Homo sapiens: one gene and its partners. The protein of the gene in region 3 purifies or fractionates together with the protein of the main gene of each other region. This does not show direct contact. Each region holds a gene or a part of one and is shown on either strand. Other genes may lie near its edges. The genes, in order: RAB18, GBP2, SSUH2, PLA2G4E, QSOX1, ACP7 and SERPINB8.

What was found.
Region 1: the proteins of SSUH2 (region 3) and RAB18 purify together in Homo sapiens (affinity purification with mass spectrometry; one large-scale study listed by BioGRID and IntAct). This does not show direct contact.
Region 2: the proteins of SSUH2 (region 3) and GBP2 purify together in Homo sapiens (affinity purification with mass spectrometry; one large-scale study listed by BioGRID and IntAct). This does not show direct contact.
Region 4: the proteins of SSUH2 (region 3) and PLA2G4E purify together in Homo sapiens (affinity purification with mass spectrometry; one large-scale study listed by BioGRID and IntAct). This does not show direct contact.
Region 5: the proteins of SSUH2 (region 3) and QSOX1 purify together in Homo sapiens (affinity purification with mass spectrometry; one large-scale study listed by BioGRID and IntAct). This does not show direct contact.
Region 6: the proteins of SSUH2 (region 3) and ACP7 purify together in Homo sapiens (affinity purification with mass spectrometry; one large-scale study listed by BioGRID and IntAct). This does not show direct contact.
Region 7: the proteins of SSUH2 (region 3) and SERPINB8 purify together in Homo sapiens (affinity purification with mass spectrometry; one large-scale study listed by BioGRID and IntAct). This does not show direct contact.

Annotation. Positions count from the first base shown.
Region 1 is NC_000010.11:27,524,804-27,528,303, reverse strand, and holds part of RAB18 (ras-related protein Rab-18), read right to left. Parts: intron 1,477-3,500; coding exon 1,415-1,476; intron 1-1,414. UniProt on the Homo sapiens protein: The small GTPases Rab are key regulators of intracellular membrane trafficking, from the formation of transport vesicles to their fusion with membranes.
Region 2 is NC_000001.11:89,112,615-89,116,114, forward strand, and holds part of GBP2 (guanylate-binding protein 2), read right to left. Parts: intron 1,683-3,500; coding exon 1,402-1,682; intron 71-1,401; coding exon 1-70.
Region 3 is NC_000003.12:8,624,299-8,627,798, reverse strand, and holds part of SSUH2 (protein SSUH2 homolog), read left to right. Parts: intron 1-15; coding exon 16-101; intron 102-1,477; coding exon 1,478-1,570; intron 1,571-2,151; coding exon 2,152-2,257; intron 2,258-3,500. UniProt on the Homo sapiens protein: Plays a role in odontogenesis.
Region 4 is NC_000015.10:41,993,543-41,997,042, forward strand, and holds part of PLA2G4E (cytosolic phospholipase A2 epsilon), read right to left. Parts: intron 1,955-3,500; coding exon 1,818-1,954; intron 107-1,817; exon of another isoform or gene 16-106; coding exon of another isoform or gene 14-15; intron 1-13. UniProt on the Homo sapiens protein: Calcium-dependent N-acyltransferase involved in the biosynthesis of N-acyl ethanolamines (NAEs) in the brain.
Region 5 is NC_000001.11:180,189,369-180,192,868, reverse strand, and holds part of QSOX1 (sulfhydryl oxidase 1 isoform a precursor), read right to left. Parts: intron 3,318-3,500; coding exon 3,195-3,317; intron 2,437-3,194; coding exon 2,289-2,436; intron 1-2,288. UniProt on the Homo sapiens protein: Catalyzes the oxidation of sulfhydryl groups in peptide and protein thiols to disulfides with the reduction of oxygen to hydrogen peroxide. Plays a role in disulfide bond formation in a variety of extracellular proteins.
Region 6 is NC_000019.10:39,083,060-39,087,167, reverse strand, and holds the start of ACP7 (acid phosphatase type 7 isoform 1 precursor), read right to left. Parts: upstream 2,801-4,108; 5' UTR 2,768-2,800; exon of another isoform or gene 2,656-2,767; intron 2,623-2,655; exon of another isoform or gene 2,077-2,622; 5' UTR 1,899-2,076; coding exon 1,778-1,898; intron 1-1,777.
Region 7 is NC_000018.10:63,987,081-63,989,874, reverse strand, and holds the end of SERPINB8 (serpin B8), read right to left. Parts: coding exon 2,597-2,794; 3' UTR 501-2,596; downstream 1-500. UniProt on the Homo sapiens protein: Has an important role in epithelial desmosome-mediated cell-cell adhesion.

The DNA of each region.
Region 1 (3,500 bases), on a different chromosome or scaffold from region 3:
ATGTTTATAGGCCTATGGTAAAAATGTCTCTTCAATAATACCTGCCAGCCTTTTTATTAGGCAGGAACTAGAAAATAAATTTAAAACAAAACGAAACTATGAGAGAAAAATCTCACTGCAACCAGCAAGTCTCAGATACTACTCTAATCTACGGATTTCACAAAGCAGCAGCAAGGCCGGAAAGGGATAATAAATTAACCATGAAAAGCATATGGAAATCAGGCCCCCACTTTAGTATGGAAAAAGCCAACATTCTTATATCGTTCAACACATTTTACCATACTCTAGTCCAACATTTTCCAAATTGTTTTCTGTTAGACATTACCGTTCTGATTGATATTAAACATATTTGGGGGAAAGGGGCAAACAGGTTAACAAATTTAAAGTATTGTATGTTAGGAAAAACTGACATAAAAACATTAAACACACTTACACAATTATTTGTTATTTGGGGATAAATGTGTATTAGAAACAGTGTGCCATTCAGAGAATGCCAAGAAATATGACATCATACAATGCATGAACACTTGCTGTTTTCAATCTGTGACTGATGTACAAACAGCATTTACCATTTAACCACCATGTGGAAATAAGTCTCGATTTGATGACTGATCAGTTCTAATATGATTTCTTATATTACAAACATATATGTATAATTATCACAGTCTATGTGAAAAATAGATATATAAAACAGTATATATTTAGAATATACATATATATATATAACCGATCATATTTAGATAGACAGATATAGATAGATCGGTATGTGGGTGGGTAAATAGACTGATGAAAGGGAGACACAGAGAGAGACAAACATAGACACTAAGCATCTTGGATATTTTTGACAGTTAATGCTACCTTATTTGACACTAGCATGAGCGGTCTAGCTAGTACAGTAACGGGGATCAGAATGGTTGGATTGACAGGAAAACGAAAAGAAGCCAGTAAGGAAAAACGAGGCATTAAAAATAAGCCCAAAGTTTGAAACCTCAAATTTTATAAATATCTATACTAACAAACAAGAAAAATAAAATTTTTTCCTAAATATCACGTCATTCCTCCTCCCCTTAAAAATTGTCTTTAGTGTTAGTTCAGTCTAGATGGTCTTTTTAAAACTTCAAAGAAACATATCCAATTATGATTCTCTTTGGCAGATGAGATGATTTTTTAATATTCTGTTCTGTTTTGAAATATTCATAAAGAATTATGCATTGTGAAAATTTAAACAAAACATAGCTGCCTAATTACCCAATTATAAGACATTACTGTTTATCCTTTAATCAGTATCAAATCTCCCAAAAGTTATTTAATACAAATTGTTCATTCACCACCTCTAGAACACTACACAAATCAATTTCTGCATCCTTAAAAAGTAAAGTTTAATATTTTAAAAATACATTTTAAAAACTCTTACCCATATTGCAAGTTTAGCCTTATTTCCATCCACTGAAATTGTTTTCACCTTAAAGTCAACACCTTAAAGAAATGAAAATTTTGATAAGTCTCCCAGTAAAACAGACTTTTAAAATCCATTACCAAGAAAACCAGAAAACAGAAAAGTCACTATTATCAAATGCCCAATTCACACCCCAACTTCTTAGAATTCTGGATGTGGAGATAAAAAGTGTCATTAAAATCCAGGATCTTAGGATTTAATCAGGATAAATGAAAATCAAATGCTTGTAGAATTCACTCACTCACCTACCTTCTATTCTTCCAAAAAGGAAAAACGAAATTCAATTTAAGGTGATAACTCACTATGCGTGTTAAAAGTCAAGAGCTGCAATTACAATGCTCACATAAAGAAGACTATCCATGGCTGACTGTGGGTCATGGCAGCTTCCAGGGGCTCCCTAAGCATCCACATGCTACTGTTAAGAGTGCTGTCCACTGCCAGCCAACCACTAACTCAGATCTTGACTGTAAGCAGCTTGGGGAACCGGTAAAAATATTAAAGGGCCACTCACTCCTTGTCATATAATCTCTTTATTTTTATCCTAAAAAAATACTATTTTTATGTAATAACCTAATCAATAACTTGCTACAGCACAATTTCAATAAAACAATTTATACATGAAAACATTTATATACAACCATCTAAGAATCTTCATAAGTGAAAGAGGAGTGCCCAAAGTTCTATGAAAAGCTTCTATAAGTACTAATTTATGTAAAGAAAAGAGTTTCATAAGAAGTCCACAAGGCTTTATTACAGCAGCCAAAAAAGAAACCTCTCCCTTTCCAGGAAAAGGAGTTGACACATGCCATCTGGCTTAAATGAACAGCAACTGCCCACATGTCTTTCAAGAGTTCAGTCTACCCCACTGGCCAGAGGGAAAACATTAGCTCAAGAAGCTTGGAAAGAAACTTTCAAAATATCTTATTAGCTTGTCACAATTAATTCAGAACAGCCCCAACTAAGATGAACAGCACCCTCACATACTAAATGCTTAATAGAACACCTGTCACCAATATGGAAATATATTTGTAATTCTTGGAAGACTTGTGGTGATCCATTACATATACAAATTCAGTAATAAAAATGCACATTCAAAATGTGCATTATGCCAGGTCTTTCTGTATACCAAATATATATATTTTTAAGTTTGGTGTTTTGAGCTGGGGTGATAAAGGAGTTGATAAAGCCTAGAATGATGGGCAACCATTAGTAAAAGGACAGTGTTGATTACATAGCCCAACAAAAACCTAAATATAAAATTTCTTCACAGCCAAACAAACAAAAAATCCCACATGCTAAATAATCTTGTATTAACCAGGTCTAAATAAAGAAGTTACTATGCCATTTTAAAAGTGGAACCATCTACATAAACAACATGAAATTATCTACATTTTCTTCCTATTGCTTTAAAAAAAAAAAAGCAAAGCACAAACCCTGAGAAAATTCAGAGGAGGAAAATGGTTCTGACTTGGTGCAGGTACTAAATGACAGCCACTGGCAGACACTACACAGAGATAGCCTCTGTCATGCACACTCTACAGTTAAATTCTCAAGGTTTTTCAGGGAGTATATAAAGAACTAATTTTTTTCCTTAATAATCCCAGATACATGTTCAAGAGCAGACAAGCATCTTTCCTATGAGCTAATTTGTTTACCCAAGAAAAGAAACCCACCGCTTCCAGAATGTATGTGTTTTCTTCCCATACCCCAACTCCTCTTTCTCTATTATTATTTCCTGGTTCTGCAAGTTTGTTGTGAACAGTCTAATGACTGTCTCTGACATAAGAATAATTTGCATGTGGATAACTAACAATGTCTCTAAGTTATGCTTTTGACATATTATATCTGAAACTTACCAATACCCATCCACAGGAGACACTGAACACTGTCGTCCTGCCATCAAAGCCAACAGACACAGGTAGCCTGAAGGGGCACCTAATCTAAATCCAGACCCCTAAAGTCCCCAGTCATCTTCCCTAGGTTCCTCTGGTGAATCTCACATGCAGCAATTGAGCTCTTCAGATCTCACATGCTAAAACTGCTT
Region 2 (3,500 bases), on a different chromosome or scaffold from region 3:
CCATGCAACAATCTGATGATGCTTTGGAATTCTGCTTACAAAAGTCATCTCGCCTTGCTTCCAACTGGGCCTGTGAAGTGACAAAACAGCACAGATGTTTCAGTAAAGCCATGAGGAGGATGTTAACTATGTGGAGACTGGAAAATGCTTCTCCTTCAGAAATTGTGGCCCTCTAAATAGGGCCATGCTCCTCACATTGCTGTTAGATCCTAGAATATCCCTAAGTTGTGCTTATTGCAGAAATTTATCTACTTCTCTGTTTGTGATTTCCTAAAGCTCCTTTCTCCCAGTTTTCCTGTTTCAGAGAATGATTCTCAAAGCACATACACTATTTCATACGAAACTTTTATCTTTCCAAGTCTCTCATTTCAGGAATAGTTCTGAGCACAAACACTGGAGTCAGGCAGCCTGCCTGGAGTTCCCGGATACACTACACTGTGGCTTGTGACACTCAGTCTTTGTGAACTGAGGATTCCTTGTCTGTGCAGCAGAGGAACAATACCTATCTCACAGATTTCTCTGCAGGGTTATATGAGGTGATGTAAAGTATTAAGCCCGGGGACTTTTTAGAAGTGCTCAGTAAGGAGTACATGATTATTTAGTACATTCTTTAACATAAGAATATTTTTGTGTATTTTCTCAGCATAGGGCTAATGAAAGTAATGAAGATTGTGCCATAGGTATTTTCAGTATTTGGAAAGTCTCATAGAACAGCACATTTATCTACATTAAATCACTCAAGATAACTTAACTATGAAGCTTTCTCTTTCCTCCTTAGGTTGGAAGGGTGACAATTGCTGACATCGGCTATCTAGCTTCACCAGAACCTCTGACTGTAGCAACGTATCATTTATAAGATCCTGCCTTCCTAGCTAGGGAAAGGACTTTCATTTGTCAAGTGGTCATTCTGCATGCAAAAATACTTTGTTCACTTGGAATGAGGCAGACATTAAAAACATTCTCTAATAAAATTTATATAATTAATTTCTCTTTCTTGGCCTTCTGAATATTTTACCATTGGCTCACATTTAAAAAAATTATTAGGGTTATTTAAAAATAATTTAGTCCCCACTGATAATTACCAGGGAACATAAAAACAATGTATTTTTTAATTTAAAAGGACAAAATAAGTTAAAATAGTCTTTAACAATGCAGTTGTACCATCTACTTACTTTCTTAAAATATGGGACCCAGAGAGGAAAAACTAACAAAAGCAAATTTTAGTAAAAAATTAGGTGTCTTTTTTTAAAGGTCTAAGGCTATGCACATTCTAGTCTTTTAATGATTATTTCAAATATGTACACATAACTGAGTGTAACTATTTTGGGGTCTAGAAAGAATTATTTTCCCATGAAGGGCCCATATTTTTCTGCCTCTCATGACGTAGAACACCAAATATACCCCTAATTTCCTCTGGAACATTTGGTCCACATCCTTGAAAGAGTTCTTCATGAAGACTTCAATGGCCTCTCTCTCACTGTCCCTGTGCAGGTCCAGCAGCTCCTGGAGGGTTTCCGTGGGCAGCTGCACCTTCTGGCCCATCTGCTGTTCATAGTGGGCAATAGCCTTTTCCACTGCGGCTGAGTTCTCTATCTGGGCCAAGGCCAGGACTGCGTTCTCCATGCAGGGTAGATCCCCACTGCTGATGGCATTGACGTAGGTCAGCACCAGGCTCTCTAGACCTGCAAAAGGGAATTTTTAAAAAAATGTGACTATCAGTTGGTGGGACAGAATATTTTGTGTGCTTTTCAAGTGAGTGTCACAAATAATACTTTTAAATAAGTTTTGGATAAAGAATAGTAATGGAATAATTTGTTAACCTCTAATCACAGAGGAAATTGAAGTGGCTCTTTCCTATTTCCTTCACCCAAAAGGAAGATATTGAAATGAATAGGTTAGGATATTTTGGGGCTGAGATACTAGGTCAATGTGTTTTCTTACCTTTCTTTTCTCTCACCTCTCCCTCTATTCCCTTTCTCTCTTCACTACTAATTTATGAAAAAAGTCAATGAGAAAACTTAGCCTTTTTATTTTTATTAATTTTAGTGGTGCAGACCACTAGTCACTAGTCTGGTGTCTGGCTTAGGTAAATATGTCTTCTTAGATATTCTCTCATCAGAACTACAGATAGGATAATCAACTCATCGAGTTTGCCAGGGCTTTGCTGGGTGTAGCACTGAAAGTCTCACATGCCAGGAAAACCTCATCTTAGGCAAACTGGAGTGGTTGATCACACAACAAAAGATGATTCTTTTTGACTCAATCCTGGACCTTCTCATCTCTCTGCGGTTTTAAGTACCATCTGTATGGATGGCTGGTGTATTTTGTTTCCTGCTTTGACATTTCTTTTAAGCTTTGGATTAAAAATAAGTTTTGCACCTTATTTTTAATGCCTATCTTATATTCCTTACTGCATAAATCAGAAGAATCTCAATATTAAATAATCTAAATATCAAAACTTCATCCACTCTGAAAAACTATTTCTCCTCTTGATGCTACTATCTCATTAAATAACACAGCCATTCAAGCAATTGCTAAACTCGAAACGCTGGAGACAGGCTTGGCATTTCCTTCTTATTCCCTTCATAAATCCATATTCCCTCTATCAACAGGCCTTTTAGATTTAATATCCAAAGTATGTTCGGATCTTGTCCATTTTCACCATTTTCACTGTCATAATCTGAGACTAACCCAATGCCCATTTATGGCTCAACCACTGCAAATAGCATCCATCCTCTCATTCCCTCCCTTTCACTACTCCAACAAATTATCTACAAAATATTCAGAAAGATATGTATAAACATAAATTAGATAACCTTACCTCACTGCCAAAAATTCTTCAAGATCTTCTCTAGAGCTTAGACAAACTCTAATCTCCTCAAAGTCCTCTGCCAGTCCTTTCAAGACCTGACCCCTTTATACCCCTCCAATTATGACACCACTCTTATTCAGTCTTCTCTTGTTCCAATCGCCTGTCTTTCTTCTATTTTCGTTTAAAAAATTGAGATGGAATTCTGGTCTGTCACCCAAGCTGAAGTGCAGGGCATGATCATAGCTCACCATAGCCTTGAACTCCTGTGCTCATGCTGGGTCCTCCTGCCTCAGCCTCCTGAGTAGCTAGGACTCTGGGCAAGCACCACTGCACTTGGCTGATTTTTAATTTTTTCATAATGATGAGGTCTTGCTACTTTTCCCAGGCTGGTCTTAAACTTAAACTCCTGGGCTCAAGGAATTCTCCCACCTTGGCCTCCCAAAATGCTGGGATTACAGGCATTAGCCTCCTGTGTTCTATTTTCTTGAAGTTGCAAAGTTCTATCCTGCCCTATGCATTTCCACATTACATTATTTGCTATAAAGCTATTCCTCTATATGCTTTGGTTAGCTCTTAACCATTTATTTAATATATATATATATTGGAGACAGGGTCTCACTCTGTCTCCCAGGCTGGAGTGCGGTGGTGCAGTCTCCGCTCACTGCAACCTCTGCCTCCCAGGCTCAAG
Region 3 (3,500 bases):
GTGGTGTGTCTGCAGGTGCGGTGCCCATCCTGCTGCGGAGCCAAGCGCAAAGCCAAGCAGTCCCGGAGATGTCAGCTGTGCGCGGGGTCCGGCAGGCGAAGGTAGGGGCATCTCCCCAGCACCGCGGTGAAGTGCTCTTGCTTTCTGGCTTTTCATTGCCTGCCCATCTGGAAGGCAAACAGGAACCCATCTGTCTCGTCACTGCTGTGTCCCCAGAGCTCTGCACGTAGTAGGTGCTCTGTGGTTATTTGAAGAGTAGGTGAGCTTTTCTCAAGGCCTGGCATTTCTGGACAAGGCTGGAACTCGTCATGCAATATATGTGGAAAGAGTGTGAAGAAAGAGCCACTGCAGGGAGGAAACACAGGGACGGGGTTACCAGGAAAGGAGACCTCTCCCGCCCACGGGTTGGGAAGTGAATATCAAAAACCACCTAAAGGCCAGATTTTTAACTCACTGAGGATCAGTTCCTGGGCAAGCCCCTATTTATAACTCATTTTGGGGTCTGAATGGAGGAGGAGTCAAGGAAAGTTGGTTGATTGACTAAACAATAAACAAAATTTCATCACTGCTCACAGCTTTGCAAACACTGGGCCATTGCATTTTGTAAATCCTATCCTTTAGTGTATTTATAACTTTTTAAGGGAAACAGGAAACCGTGAGGAGTAAAAATACTCAAGGTTGGGTTGGTTAATGATACTTTTGCCTCATTAAAGCCCAGGCCATCCTTCTGACAAGCCAGTTGGAGAAGCTTTGGTGGCACCTTCCATCGTGGTTGGTAGAGACAGTCTCTGACTGGGAAAAAGACACTTATTTTTCTTTCATTTGCAAGTGAAAGGAATCCAATTCAAATTGGCTTTGGCAAAAAAAGTCGATTTACAGGCCTAGGTAAGAATGAAGTCCAGGGGTATATTTCAGGGATGGCTTCAGGCCCAGCTGGATCCGGGTGCTTAAACAACACCACCAGGAATCTGTATCCACCTCTCACTCTGCTTTCCTTTGTGTGGGCTTCATTTGCAGGCAGGGGGTTCCTTGTAGTGGCAGAGGAGATCACCAGTAGCTCCAAGCTTACTAATCCCAGGAGAAAAGATGTCCCTTTCCCGATAGTCCCGACAAACATCCTGGGACAGATCTCATTGCACTCGCCTGGGTCATGTGCCCATCTTTGTATCAGCCACTGAGACCAGGGACATGGAATAAGATGATTGGCCAGTCCCAGATCCCAAGCTGTTCACAGAATTTAGTGGTGGGGGAGGGGGGGGGGCAGGCCCTAGAGCCATGTGGGCTGGGTGGGGGAAGGGTGATCCCCATAGAGATATTGGGGCACTGCCAGCAGAAGGAGGACTAGGTGGTGGGCAGGTACAAACAATGCAGGCCCACCACAGTCTACCTCCAGGAGGAAGGGGGTGCAGGTGGGAGCCTCTGGAAGCCACCAGGACCTGCAACTGATCTGGGGGTACGGACTCTGTGCCTTTCTCAGATGCAGCACTTGCTCAGGGAGAGGGAACAAGACCTGCGCCACCTGCAAGGGGGAGAAGAAGCTGTTGCACTTCATCCAGCTTGTCATCATGTGGTATGTGGCAGTGTCTCAATGCTGTGGCATGCGGGGGTGGCTGAGGGACTTAGCCCTGGACTGGCTTCTGCAGAGAAACTGTGGTTGGTTGGGGCTTTCACAGTGCAAGAACCTGCCAGGACTTAGAAGGGGGAGAATTCCCTTGGAAGAGGCAGTGTGGGGTTGTGGGATGCTGACTGGCTTTAGAACAGACAGACCTCAGTCCAAATTCTGCCATCACCACTTTCTAGGGCAGCAGCCGCTCCACAACTGAGCCCTTCCCGTAGGAATAGAGCCATAGCATCCTGCTACGTCCCTAAGTCAGTCAGGGCTTCCGTGCATTAAAGGTTTCTCCTGTCTCAGGCACCTTGCTAAGTGCTTTGTAGGCAAAGATGAAATGAGGTAATGGAGCTGAACTGTCACTCTCCTTACTAGCTTCATTTTACAGGTGAGGAGACTGAGGCTCAGAGAGGCTACAGAACTGTTGCAAGGTCCCTCCAGTAGCAATTCAAGCCCTCAACCCCAGGTCTGTCTGATTGCAAAGGCCATGCTTTTAACCTGCCACACTGTGTGCTTTCATCCCTCATCCTCCTTCCCTCCAGGAAGAACAGCTTGTTTGAGTTTGTGTCTGAGCACCGGCTCAACTGCCCCAGGGAGCTCCTTGCTAAAGCCAAAGGAGAAAACCTCTTTAAGGATGAAAACTCGGTGGTAAGAGGGCATTGTAGATGGGAACAAAGGAAGCTGGGTTCCTCCTCTGCTCTCGTGGGCCTGGGGCTGCTAGCTGTGTGTGCAGGCTGCATTCCTTGGAAGGACAGGTTGTGTAGGAGCAGAGCTCCCCAGACATGGATAAGGCTGTGGGGAGCCTGGGGGCTGTCAGTTTCCTTTTGACTTTTACACACTCAGCCCTCTGTCCTTCCCCACCCACCATGCCGTTCTTCCTTCCTAATACTCTCTTTCTCTCTTTCCCTCCCTCCCTTCTTCCTCGCTCTTTTCCTTCCTTCCTCATCCCCTCCTTCCCTTTCTTCCTCATCCCCTCCTTCCTTCCACAAATCTTGAGACCCTCCTCCTATATCAGGCACTATTCTTGGCCCTGGGTAGACCATGGCAAATAAAACAAGGACCCTGCCCTCATAGAGCTTACAGTCTGGTGAGGGGACTATGATGGACCCTTTTATAGCAATGTCAGATGGTGAAGGGGCACTGAGAAACATTCAAGCAGGGTAAGGGGCAGGGAGGGGTGGCAGTGTCGTTCCAGCTGGAGGTGGGAAAGCCTCTTTGTGGAAGTGACCTTGGGCACAGACCTGGATGCAGGGCAATTGGGGAGTGGACCTTGTGGCGTGGGAGCGAGGGGACAGTGGGGCAGAGGCCTTGAGGACTGGCAGAGGGCAGTGAGCAGGGCAGAGCTAGGAGCTCAGAAGTGAGAGGTACCTTCAGCCAGAGGAGAGGGTCCTGCGGGCCAGGAGTTGGCACACCCAGCCCACTGCCTGCCTTTGTCGATAAAGCTTTATTGGAACACAGCCCCACGCATTTTCTGACAGGTTGTCTATGGCCGCTTTCCTGATGGTGGGACAGAGCTGGATAATGACAGACTACATAGTCTGAAAGCCTGAAGTATTTACTATTTGGTTCTTAGCAGAAAAGGTTTTCTCACTCTGCCGTTGGCCTTGGCAGAGAGATTGGCTTCAATGGGACTTCTGATGGGGGTCCTCAAACTATAGGGAGGTGTGTCAGCCTCCTTTCTTTGCTCCAGTAATTTGGCTTTTTAAAGGCTCACCTCAGGCATCCCCCCACCAGAAGCCCTGCACCCCACTCTTCCATTTGAGTTAGGGATTTCCCCCTGGGCTCAGCTCAGACTGAGGACCATCCCTAGGCGTCACTGGCTGCTGGCAGCTCTGTGAGCTGACCCTGCCTGGTGCTGAGCTCTGACCACCGTCTCACCCTCAGCGTCCAC
Region 4 (3,500 bases), on a different chromosome or scaffold from region 3:
CTTCTTAACTTACATGTTGGTTGTCGGGGGGAGCAAAACAAAGAGGTGATCCCACTAGCCCTGGGTCTGGCCTCAGTCTGCCTCTTCTTGGCCTGGATCCAGCTTTTCTGCGTCAGGACAGGAAAGGGCCCTTTTCATTCTGCGCCTGAGAATGACCTCCCTGGCAGTGCAGCTAGTCTGCGGCTGCACATTTAAGGAAACAGGGGCCTCCTCCCTCACAGGACTTGCTTTTGGGAAGGTGGGAGGTGGTCAGGAGACTTTTCAACAAAAAGCACCCTGCTCTCCATAAGCTTCACCCATTCATTTTATACTTTAAAAAAGCTTCCAGAAGCCATTGCAAATGAGTTTTTAAAAGAATACGACTTGTGCTTTCCCCAGGCCAGGGGACCCCACCCATCCCACCCCGGCTGGGCCTGAGTTCCTCCTGCTATCTGTCTATCGCATAGTAGTCCGGGAGGACGCAGGTGCCCCTCAACCTGCTGGAAGCAAGTTACCTTCTTAACCTACTACCGGGGGCAGCCATTTAGCATGGAGGTTAAGGATGTGGGCCCGGGACTAGGTTCAAATTCTACTCCACTGCTCATTAACTGAGTGTCCCTGGCAAATTACTCTGTTTCTCCAGCTGAAAAATAATGACAATGCCTCTCTCATAGTTTTTTGTGAGGAAGAAACAAGATGAGCCATAGGAAGCAGTGACTCCAGTGCTTAGCAAGAGGCAAATGTCTCCTTCTGTCTCACCTGGGCTGGCGCCTCTGCCCCCCGGGGGGGTGTGTGGCACAGGAGCCCTTGGCTTTCCAAGGCCCATTCACATCCATTTGCTCACACGGGGGCTACCCAGAGCTCCTCCAGTATACAAGGCACAGCAAGGGACCTCAGGGCTCACAGGCCCACCAGTCACAGACAGGACACGGCCCTGCTTGATAGGCCACCCTGAACCAGGGCCACGCAGGGTTTTGATGGGCCCCACAAAAAATGTTTATATGTTTTTTATTTTTGTTTTTTTTAAAGACAAGTCCTCCCTATGTGGCCCAGCCTGGTCTTGAGCTCCTGGCCTCAAGCAAGCCTTCTGCCTCTGCCTCCCAAAGTGCTGGGATTACAGATGTGAGCCACCATACCTGGCCACATAAAAAATATTAAAATTTATATTTCATGCTGGCCACATAAAAAATATTAAAATTTATATTTCATGACTGTTGTATAAAGACAAATGTATTCATATTATTTATTAAAACATTTTCTTCAACCTATAAGTTTGTTAATGAAATGATCCTGATTTTAAAAGAAATTAACCTATTTTTGTGGGCCCCTAAAAGTACAGTGAGCCGCAGGCACTGTGCCTTCTGTGGGTAAGCTGACCTCACCCTGGCCTCCCTGTGGGGGAACCCAGTGCTCAGCCCCTGGCCCTGCTCACCAGCAGAGGGTGAGAAGGAGGGAGCTCAGCTGCAGGGCCCTGCCCGTTGCATGTCCCCAGCAGTATGGGGTCATGTTCCTGGGTCCATACCACAGCCCCAGGGAAACAGTAACACCAGGAAAGGCCAGGGCATACAGTGTCTCTGGCATACTTAGTAGCGGGAGAGCGTCTTACACCCACCGCATGAGGTCAGAGCTACTGTTATCCGCACTGTGCAGATACACAAGCCGAGCCTCCAAGGAGTCAAGCTGCATGCCCAAGGCCACACCACTGCATGTGGGGCACTTCCCAGGCTTCAGGAGTCACTTTGTCTTTGGGTGGCGGGGAGGAGCTTCACCTGAGACCCCAGGCCAGCCTGTTCGTGGCTTGCCCTGGGCTCCACAGACAGTGGCTCATGTCTCCTTACCAGGTGGCCCCTGATAGACCGGTGATGTAGCTGGCACAGTCCAGGAGGTTCAGCTTCTGCAGCCCCAGCAGGTGGCCATACATGGAGGTCATGGATCTTGTTCCACCCCCAGTGGCCATGATGGCTATCAGCGGCACCTGGGGTTACACAGAGGCAGGCGGTTGGGGAAGGCTCCAGAAGCAAAGCTTGGGAGAAGACTTAGAATGACGGCAACTTTGAAAGAACAATGGAGGAGGCAGAGCTGGCTACAGAGGGCAGGGAGTGCGGCGTTGAGCCACCTGACACCTGCCTTTCCACAGAGCAGTGGGTCTAGAAATAGACCTCAGCTCCACACCCAGAAGTTGGTGTCAGTGAAGGACTCTGAAGCCTAACACAGGCTTGGTAAATCACAGAAAGCTGTGGCTAGCAGAGTTCTTAGCACTGTTAGTCTAGCCCTCGGTTAACAGGTGATAAAACTGGGGTCCGAGGGTGGTGGGCAGCTTGTTCAAGAACCCTACTAATGTGCGATCCCTCAATGGGACAAACCAACATCTTCTGTAGCTGGATCTGAGGGAAGGCACCAGGCCTGGCACATGGTGCCTGCTCAGCAGGTACTGTACTGGCAAGGCCAAGAGTCAATGGACTGGTGATGTGGGAAGGAGCAGGGTTGCCAGCTCTGGGTCAGCAGAGGTTTAAGAGGCCCCTGGAATGTTTCCCTAAAGATAGGGCCAGGTACAATGGCTCACACTTGTAATCCCAGCACTTTGGGGGGCCGAGGTGGGCAGATTGCTTAAGCCCAGGAGTTCAAGACCAGCCTGGGCAACATGTAGAAACCCCATCTCTACAAAAAAATACAAAAATTAGCCAGGCATTGTGGCTCATTCCTGGAGTCCCAGCTACTTGGGAGGCTGAAGTAAGAGGATTGCTTGAGCCTGGGAGGTGGAGGCTGCAGTGAGCTGTGATGGTGCCACTGCACTCCAGCCTGGGTGACAGAGCAAGACCCTGTCTCAAGAAAAAAAAAAAAAAAAAAAAAAAAAAAAAGGAGGGAGGAAGGGGCTCTTTGTCAAGACTCATTCTGTCTGTTTTCCTTTGAGTGGGGGCTGTAAGAACCTTCCATTGGCTAAAGCGCTATTACAAGTCCTCCTCGGGCACCCGCCAGGTCTCTGTCCTCACCTAGGGTCAGCCTCAGAAAGCAGGCGCTTGGAGGGCTTGCCTGCTGCCCAGGCGAGTGTGGGCCTTGGTCCACACAAGGGAGGCAACAGAGGGCTGTGACAGAGGCCCACCGTCTGCTCCCGTGGGAAGAAGGGGCGGTCTGGCCCTAGGAGTGCAAGTTGCTTCTCTCCAGCTTCCTAGCGCTGTTATTTCTGGGAGTGTGTTTACCTGTGCGGATTTGAGAGGAGAGACAATTGAGGAAAGAAGGACCTAAGGCCTTTTGGGTGGAGGTGTGGGGTGCAGAAGGTGGTACAGCTTAAAATGTTTTCCTGGCTGGGGTGAGGAGGGCATTTTATCCCTGAGTAAGGCCCCTTTAGCCACAGCAGGAACTCTTAGTGCTTGGGAGGAGGCGCTGGGGCTCTGTCCTTTCTGTCTCCATTTTGCTCTCCCCTTCTCTTGTGAATATAAAACAGAATCACTTCCAGCACAGCTCTCACCAGGGCGCCTGTACCTCAGCAGTAAAAGCATCCATGGAGGTGGCGCCTGGGGTAG
Region 5 (3,500 bases), on a different chromosome or scaffold from region 3:
AGCACTCTTCTCTACCTCCCTGCCAGGGAGCTCATCCAGTCCCACAGCTTGAGCTCTGATGCTACTAATGACTATAAAGCTAATCTCTCTATTCCCCACCTCTCCCTGGAACTCCAGACTCAACTGTGCACACCTCCATTGGGAGGTCTATTGACACAAAGCGGGCCATTGATTCCACCATCCCAACCCGAGCCCCTGACTCCTCAGCTTATGGGACCATCATCCACCAGAGGCTCAGGCCCCACAACCCTGGAGTCCACCCGAGTCCTGCTTCCCACATACCCTTCCTCCAATCTATCAGTAAGTCCCTCAGCTCTGCCTTTAACATATCCCCAAATCTGACCACTTCCTCCAGGGGCACACTGACAACCCTAGTCCAGGCCCAACCACCACTGCTGGGCGAGCATGCAGCTTGCTCCTCAGCTGCCCTGCCTCCCCCTGCCTGCAGTAGCCCATCCTCCACCTTTCTAAAGTGTTAACCAACTGTCACTTCCGTTAGCCTCTCCAGTGGCTTCTCAAAATGCCAACACCAACCTCCAAACCCTGCCCTCGCCAAGGCCTCTGAGCCCATGAGCGCTCACCTCCGCCCCCGGCCTGTCTCTGCAGCCTCACCTCCCTCCCTCCGGCCACAGCAGCCTTCTTTCAGTGCTGCCCACACACCAGGCTTGTCCTTTGCACCTGCTGGTCTCCAGCCTGTGCTATGGGCTGAATTATGTCCCCCCAAATTCCTATGTTGAAGCCCTAATCCCCAGCCTCTCAGAATGTGGCCGTATTTGGAGACAGGGTCTTTAAAGAGGTAATGAAGGTAAAATAAGGTCATTAGGGTGGGCCCTAATCCAATAGGACTGGTGTCCTTGCAGGAAGAGGAAATTTGGACATGGATTGGGAGAGGGACAACTGCACGGAGACACAAGGAGAAGACGACCACCGCCCAGCCAAGGAGAGGCTCGAAGAAACCAGCACAGACACCTCCACCTTGCACTTCAGCCTCCAGAACTCAGACAACAGACGTCTACTGGCTGAGCCCCAGCCTGACATTTGTGAGTGCAGCCCAAGGACACCAACACAGCCTGGGAGACTCTCTTCCCAGACGTCCCACACTGCCTTCTCCTCTCCACATGGGTCCCAGCACCGGGCCCTCCACAGGGAAGCCTTTCCCAGACCCCTCTCCAGACAGCACCCGCTCCGGCACTGCTTTGCTTTGTCTTCCTCAGCATTCGTCATCATGGCTGAAGCCATCCCTCTGTGTCTGTCTCCTGCCACTCAGATACTGGCCCTGTGGGGGCAGGGACCTGTCTCATATGCTGCTGTGTCCCCGGCACCTGCAGCGCCACATGGCATGGTGGAGATGCTCCATACACACTGGCTTCCCACACCACTGCCTGGCAGTTCCTCTGATTCACGGGGCTCCACACAGGCTGCTCCCTCTGCTGGGATGCTCCTCTCCTGGCGGAATCCCTACTCACCCATCACCCCTCAACTCACCCCGTAAGGCCTCGGGCCCCTTCCCAATGGCGTCGAGCCTGCCCTCTCTTCACCCCACATCTTTCTCTCCACCACGGCCCTAGCCCTGATGCACTGCAGGCCTCTCTGTCCCCCTGCCTCACACTAGAGGTCCACCAAGAGCGGGCACTGTCGCCCTTTTCACCCATGTATCTATCCTCCAAGCCAAGCCGCAGCCTGGTATAAACCTGGTTCCTCAATCAGTGTGGACTGAATTGGATGCGCATCCTTTCAGTCTTCAAAAGCAGGTGTGGGGCAGCGTGGCCGGAGAACATGGTGGTGCAGTTTGTGGACAATCCGAGGCAGCAGGGGAAACGTGTTTCCCCAACTTCCCCCAGGAAATTGTTTTTCAGTGGGAAGTGCAATAAAATTGCTCAAAGCACCTGCTATGTATCAGCTATGTAAACTGTAAAATACACGTTTTTTTCTTTGTTAAGAGTATAAAAAAATAGAATCACAATTTTTTCATGAAGACTGAAAGCAAAGCAAACTATAAGCCCGGAGAAAGACAGGGAGAAGCCTCAGCCCCAGAGCTCCCGGGGCCGAAAACAGGACTGGTTGAATTCCTAAAGTCTGCTCCCTCCTGGGATTGGTTCTATTCTGGCCGTGTGGGGCTACCTGCAGATAGAGCAATCCAGCCAGAGCCCCAAGGCTGACTCTCCCCATCTTCTGGCAGCTGGGAGCCAGTGGGGCAATTCAAGGGAGCTTCCCTGCCCCCTCTCCCCTTGGAGGGCCGAACAGAGCAGGGTTGGAGGCACAGTGGGGTGAACGGGTCCTGGACGTACCTGCTTCCTGTGAGTGGTCTACATTTTGCCGAGCTGCCTGCACAGTCAAGAAGTGGAAGAGGACCCACAGGGAGCAGGGAAAGCCCCGGAAATGCGGCTCACTCCCCTGGCAGCCAATCCAGTTCACCTTCTTGGCAAGAACGGCACCCTGAGGGACACATGAGTGTGAGTGCACATATGGAGAAGGAAAAGGATGGGAGAGGCAGAGACAGAAGCTTCTAGGAGACAGCCCTAAGACAAATGAGGTCCCTCAGTCTATCACCTCGAAGGTGGCATTTCCCTTTCACCAGTTCCACCCACTGAAGCAGCAGCAGACCTAAAAAGCTGTGACCCAGATCAAGCTGCATCCCGTTCCAGCCTCAACTTCCCCAGCTGTAACACAAGGGGGTTATCTCTGAGGTCCCTTCGAGATTTGACACCCTACAAGTCTACAGGGTTTTACACCTCTGCTGGCTGCAGTGACCCACTTTTGCAAATAGCAGCATGAGCAGGAGCCCAGAAGGTGCCCTGGAGAGGGCCAGGGAGGCCATGCTGAGCAGCACCACAAACTAAGAGGCAGCACAGGGTAGTTGTTAAAAACTCTGGGGTCTCACCAAGTTTTCATCCCAGCCCAAACACTTACTGGCTCCATGAACCCAGACAAGTTGCTTAACCTTTTCAAAGTACTGTTTCTTCATCTGCTAAATGGGGAGAATATCTACCTTCCACTAACATTATGAGGATTAAATGAGATGTGCGCATAGAGAGCTCAATCAATAGTCATTTATTGATTATTGTTAGGACCCAACGAAGATCACTGACTCCCTGGTGCAAACTGGCGAAGAAGGTCAGAAATGACAGGGTTAACCCCTTGCACTCTCATAAATACGGAGGATGGAGAGATCTTTATTTGCTTCCCAGACTCACCTCTTTCCTGTCGTCCAGGGCAGTTTTAAAGAAACTGTAGGGAATTTTATTTCTCTTCTGCCTCTTGAGCCATTCATTCACGGAGTGCAGGAAGTTCTGGACTAAGGGCCGGCCAGGGAAATACTGTGGGGAGGAACAAGCGGAAGCTGGAGAGTGAAAAGCAATTCCCCAAGTTCCCCGTCCTGCAGATGGTAGGAAGCTATGCAGAAGAAGGCGGGGGGCGGGGGGCGGGGGGCAGTGGGGAGGAGGTTGTGCAAAGTTCCAAAACCACCAGGAAAACATTCTAACTAAGACACAAATATGACT
Region 6 (4,108 bases), on a different chromosome or scaffold from region 3:
TGGGGTGGTGGGTGCCTGTAATCCCAGCTACTCGGGAGGCTGAGGTGGGAGAATCACTTGAACCCTGCGGGGCAGAGGCTGCAGTGAGCCAAGACTGTGCCACTGCACTCCAGCCTGGTTGACAGAGCGAGACCCTGTCTCAAAAATAAATAAATAAATAAAAGATTTTTAAAAGATGCAAGTCAATGCCACTTTCCTCACTCAATTTCTTCTTTTGCAAAATACAGTTTGTTCCTTAAAAATATCATATACATTAATACTGAAGGTGTTTGTTATTGTTAATTTTAAATGACAATAAAAAATTTTAAATGCCTCAGTTTTAATACCTTATTTAGTAAATATTGCTAGCTGTAATGCACATAAACTAAAGCTCTTTGAACTTCTCCATAAATTTTAGTTCTCCATAAAATTTAGTGATGTAAAATGGTCCTGAGATTAACAGTTTAAAACAAACAGTCCTGAGATTTAAAGTGTATGGAAATTGCTGCTACATGCCAAGCTCCGTTCTATCCCCCTCCCCCCCCCCTTTTTTTTTTTTGAGACAGGGCCTCATTCTGTCAGCCAGGTTGGAGTGTAATGGCATGATCTTGGCTCATTGCAACCTTTGCCTCCTGGGCTCAAGCGATCCTCTTGCCTCAGCTCCCCAAGCAGCTGAGACCAGGCGTGAGCCACCATGCCCAGCTAATTTTTTAATTTTTTTGTAGAGACCGGGTTTCACCCATGTTACCCAGGCTGGTCTTGAACCCCTGAGGTCAAGTGATCCACCCACCTCAGTGTCCCAAATTGCTGAGATTACAGGCATGCACCACTGTGCCTGGCCTCCTCCACATTTTTTTTTTTAAAGACAGGGTCTCTCTCTGTTGCCCAGGCTGGAGTGTAGTGGCCAATCATGGCTCACTGCAGCCTTGAACTCCTGGGCTCAAGCGATCCTCCCACCTCAGTCTCCCAAGTAGCTGGGACTATAGGTGCATGCCACCACACCTGTCTAAGATTTTTTCTTTTTCCCTAAGAGGCAGAGGTCTCACTATGTTTCCTAGGCTGGTCCCAAACTCATGAGCTCAAGTGATCCTTCCGCCTCAGCCTCCCAAACTGCTAAGACTACAGGTGTGAGCCCCCACACTCAGCCTCAGTTCTGCCCCTTTACAGGTAGCAACTCATTTACACCTCACCATGAGGTTGTACTAATATTACCCCATTATCCAGATGAGGAGACTGAGGACAGAGAGGTTAAGCCACTTGCCCAAGATTAGGCAGCAGGTACATAGCAAAGCTGGGATTCTAACCCACGTGGTCTGGGTGCCAATGGTCCAGAGTCCAAGCTCTTACTCCCACAGTGGAAGGATCCTAATCAAAGATCGGGAGGCAGTCAGCCTCGTGGGGAAGAGGAGAAGAGGGATGGAGAAGGGGCTGGGTAACCCAGCTCTGTTATCATTCATCCACTGGTTCCTTCCACAACTGGCTCTGAGGCCTACCGTGCATGAACGAACAAACGTGCCAGGTCCCGGAAACACAACAGAGATGCAATGAACAAGGACAGCAGCGGTCCCCTTTTGAGAGCAGGGGAGCACTCTCTGTGGGCTGAGCACCATGATCATTCCCCACACTTCCAGGTGTTCCACAGCCTGTACTTCCTATTCCACAGAGGTGGATGATGGAGGCTCAGGAGGAATGAGCCACCCGCCTAGGGGCTCACAGTGTGGGATTCCTGAGCCCTCAAACAACGAAGCACCGCTGGGCCTCTCTGGTAGAGGCATAGAAATGAGTCAGGGACACTTACCTGGGTAAGACAGATGGACTTGCTCTGGGGCAGCGCTGGGAGCCCCCAGGGACCCCTGGACTCCCAAGGAGAATAGCAGGAGTAGACAGTAACAGGACCAGTAGCCAGGAAGGGGGTGCATGGTGGTGGGGTGGTGATGGCAGACCGGGGAAAAGCAGGGGGACTGAGGAGATCAGCTCCCCACAGGTACAGCAGGAAGGGCTGGGAGGATGGGGAACAGAGGATGATCAGGCAGTGCTCTGGGGGACAACAGAGGCAGGGCAGGGAGGTCTCCTTCAAGATGGGTGGTTATCCAGGTGCTGGAGAGAGAAACCAAAAATAAGAATCGCTAAGGAACAGCAGCAGAGCTCTCTGAGCCTCACTCACAGTGTGCCAACCGCTTGACATAGATTAATTCACGGAAGCCTCACGACATTGCTATGAAGTGGTGGCTGTGAGCATTGTCATCCCCATATCACAGATGAGGAAACCGAGCAGCTGAGTGATTCAGCTGCACAGCTAGGATGGGATGGAGCCAGGATTTGAACCCAGGAGGGCCTGATTCCAGAGCCTTGCTCCTAACCAGAGCTCACTCTCAGTGCTGGGGGTCTGGGAGCGGGGTGGAGGCTGTGTAGGAGGTTGCATTCCGCAGCCCCATCCCCAGCTTTCCATCCTGCTGTTAGAAACCCCAGTTCTCCTACCTACTCCCGAGATTCCAAGCATTCCCGCCTGCCCCCGGGACCTCGCCTCCCTACTCCATCCTTAGCCTTCTATTTTGCTCCTAGTGACCCCAATCCTCCCACACCACCCCCAGATCCTTTAGAGCCCATCATGGCCAGAGCGGCCGCATCCTCTCTCCCCATCCCCAGCGTCCCTGCCCTTCCCCCATCTGTACCCACCCCCCTTCTCTCCAGCGCTTTCCCGCCTGCTCCAGCTCCGTCTCCAGCTGCCAGGATGGAGCCGGGTCGGGACCATCCGGGAAAGGGGACGCCCTCCCGGACCCCGGCTCACCCTCGGGGGCGCCGGCTGCCCGCACGCGCCTCTCCCGCCACCAGCGCCGCCCCGGTATTTATGAGTTCGCGGGTGCCGAGGCCTCTTGCCGCCTACAGCCGTCCCAGCCCCGGAAGAGCCGGTCGCCTCGGGGTGACAGCCTCCCTAGACAGCCAGGGCCCCGGGTCCCACAGGTCCGGCCGGTCCTGCCTGGGCGCCCCACACCCACCCGCCCACCCCACCAGGGCGTGGCGCGGGAAGGGGGACCCAGGAAGGTTATGATACGTCTCCGGCGCGCCACCTCTGAGCCGGCCACCAGGTGAGAGCCCAGGCAGGTAACCCTGCGCTCGTCCCTCAGGCGCCCACTCATCAGCTGGGGAGCCCCAGGGCACGGACACCGGCCCCTATCCTGGCCCTGCCCGATCCCCAGGTACCCAGGTGTGCAGGACCGGGGGATCCCCAACCTTTCCAGCCTCGCTGCATCTTCCTCCAGCCTTCCGGCTTCCTTCCTTTCCATGCTGAGCCCACTGACCCCTCCTCAGAAGCCCGGGGCAACCTCAAAACAAAACCAGAATCCCGGAATTGCAGTGGGCTTTCTGAGCTGTGCGACCTAGGTGAGTTATTCAACCTCGCTGGACCTTGGGTTTTTTCACCTGTAAAAAGGAGGTGATGCTCGTATATACCCCGTGGGCTGTTGTGAGGAGTAAACGAGTTGCTGCATGAAATTTCATGCCGATAACAGGGCCCGGCCCAGAGTAAGGGCTGGATAAGAATCAGCTGTTCTTTTTAATCGTATTAATGCAGGAACTCCAGAAACTGACGTCTAGGGAACAAGTTAGGGTTCTCCCCTGTAAACCTTTGCAATCTGTTTGAACGTGAGGAGCGGCTGCCACAAAAAGAGAAGCAGGGAAGAACTGGGGGGGCCCGGATTTCCAGTCGTTTCCCCTTCCTGACTGCAGATACAATGACCCGCCACCACTTGGCTTTGTAAATTCAGAGCACATAGGCTTCTACTGATTGTGGACACCAATTTCAGAAATTGGCACTAGGAGTGTGGGAAAATCAAAACGAGCCCTTTGCACTGTTTGAGTTTTTTTTTTTTTCTTCCCACTTCCAGAGTCTCCATTACAGCCTAAAATATAATGAAAGTAGCTCTCATAACCAAACTTGAGTACCTGCCACTCCTGTGGCCCCCAATTATAACCTCCCCGTATTCTTAGTTCGTCCAGAATGGGAGGTTCCTAAGCTTTTTTGTGCTAAAGATGCCTATGGCAAGCTGGTCAAGCCCTTCTCAGGATCATGTCGTTACATGCATAATATAAATACACAGAAATACAAAGGAAACCAGTGCTATTGTGATAC
Region 7 (2,794 bases), on a different chromosome or scaffold from region 3:
GCCTCCCGGGTTCACGCCATTCTCCTGCCTCAGCCTCCCGAGTAGCTGGGACTACAGGCGCCCACCACTACGCCCAGCTAATTTTTTGTATTTTTAGTAGAGACGGGGTTTCACCGTTTTAGCCGGGATGGTCTCGATCTCCTTACCTCGTGATCCGCCCGCCTCGGCCTCCCAAAGTGCTGGGATTACAGGCGTGAGCCACCGCGCCCGGCCTAAGCACATTTTTTTAAATGCTGAACATAATTAGGCATTAGGGAAATGCAACCAAAAGCCGGTACACGCTGAAAGTAACAACACTGGTAGTACCAAGTATTGGTGAGAAGAGAGAAAAACCAGAACTCTCCTAGGCTTTACTGGGAATGTTAAATGATACAACCACTTTCAAAGGCAATTTGGCAGATCCTTAAAAAGTTAAACTTACACCTTCCATATGACCCAGCCATTCTACTTCTATGTATCTATATACAAAAGAAATGAAGACATATGTCCATACAAAGATGTATATATATAAATATTCATAAAAACTTTATTTTCAATAGCAAAAATCTTGGTAACAACGTAAATGTTCATCAACAGGTAAATTTGTTCATCAACAAATCATGGTATACCTATACAAAAAAATGTTACTTACCAATAAAAGGGATGAACTATTGATACATACAATAACATAAATGAATCTCAAAATAATTGTACTGAGTGACAGGAGTCATACTACAAAGCATAGATGATGTATGGTTCCATGTATGTAAATTTCTTTAAAAATGCAAATTAATCTATAGTGACAGAAAGAAGATTGGTAGTTGCCTGAGCAGATCAGTGGTTGGGATGGGACGGGGAGAGGGAGAAGGAAGAGTGAGAAATTACAAAGATGCAAGAAGGAATTTGGGAGTATGATAGATAGGTTCATTATCTTGAATATAGCGATGGTTTGTTTCATGGAAAATGTGTCAGAACTTATTGTAGAGGTTAAATATGTGAAATGTATTCTGTGTCAATTAAAGTGTTCTTCAAATTAGAGGTGGAAGTGAGAACAAAACTCACAGATGTATACCTTTCAGTCCTGTGGATTAATTTTGCCCAAACCTGCTTTGGAAAACATGATCCCTAAATGAATGTGGCCTAACAGATATATCCTGGCTTGGTCAAATTTAAGTAAGAGCTGTAATATGAATGGTTCATGTAACTGTTAACTGTCAGTCAAAAACAGAGTCAGGATTAACCACTGTTCAGTCCAACTCATTAAAGAAATAATAAAGCAGGCAGCAGTCAGTGGTGGTATAAACAGTGACATAAGTGAGAGTACAAACCAGTGTAACTTTCTAGGGACCAATTTGGAAGAAGTCTCAAAATGTGCTCAACTTTTATCTCAACAGTACTATTGTTAGGAATTTTAAAAAATATATTAAGGATGTGAGCAAATATTTAGTATATCCAAAACAGCATAATATATATTATTAGCAATCTATTATTTGTTAATAGAAATAATTTTAATTACTCAAACTGTCTAAAATTAGATTCAATTATAGAAATCCAGCCACACAGTGGAATACTATGCACATCAAATTGATGACCTGGAAAGATCTTAAGGGAGGTTTTTCATAAGGGAAGAAATAAGCTACTGAAGGATATGATTAACTTGTAGTAAAATGCTTATAAATTTCTATTTGCATACACATAATAGGGAAGGATGTATATCACTATTAACAGCAGTGATTGCTGTGTGTTGGAATTGTGGGTGACTTCAATTTTTTTGGAGACTTTGCTGTAGTTTCCAAATTGCTGCCACAACGCAATTTTATTTTTAGGCAGAAAAAAATTAATGTATATGGAGGTTCTTTCTTAACTAAGGGGTGTGCTTGAGCTGTGTCTGAGCACATATGATTAGTTAGAGGACTCAGTGGTGTGTTGCGTAAGTTCCTTTGGTATTTTGTGTGTTTCAGAGGGAAAAGGAATGGAAAGAACAGCATAGCAAGCTTCAGATATTTGCCTCCTAGCTCAGTCCTAAAGTGCATTGCTGAGTCCCTGAACTTGTATCTCAGGCTTATGGAAAGATGAGAAGGAGCTGTCTTCATTACAAACTGTGTGAGACAGGGGGCATGCAGGGCTGTCTATGTGACAGTGACAGAAGCAGATCACTATTTCAGCTGCACATGAGACACAGGGTGGCTGCAGCTTTACTCTATAGGGTTTGCCCTTGGCTTTGTGTGCAGTGTCACCTGGGCACTAGTCCCCTGTTCAGCCTGGCAGTGGTGGTGGGCAGAGCCGGGCGGATGGAAGAGGGCTGGCTCCTGAAGCCCTGAGATGCTCCATAAGATCCCCTGAAACAATGGGCACAGACTTAGGTGAAGGCAGAGGCAATGGCAGGCACCCCAAACACTCCAAAACCAGCATAGCCTTCCCAGGCCCAAATTTCATGCATCTGCGGCCTCAGTTATTCTCAATGGCTCTGGAACTTTCAGCAAAGACTTTCACACACTATCCAGTGCACACGCTTTATTTTGGCATTCAAGCCACTGCACCAACTAGGTCACAGGGAATGTTAATTAAGGCAAGATAGGTAGAAGGAAAGGAGGGTATGTACAGCAATTGCTCCTCTTTACGGAGAAGAGAACCTGCCACAGAACAAGATGCAGTTGGTTTTGTGGTGCCTGATGAAGAAAAGAAAAGGGTGGTCTGCACAGAATCTTGGCTCCATTCTGCTGCACCGGGAATTCCTGACCACAGCAGTGGCTGCGGCAGCCTCTGTGCCTTCCTCATTGACCTCCACGAAGCACTTGTGGGCAACCTTGGACAG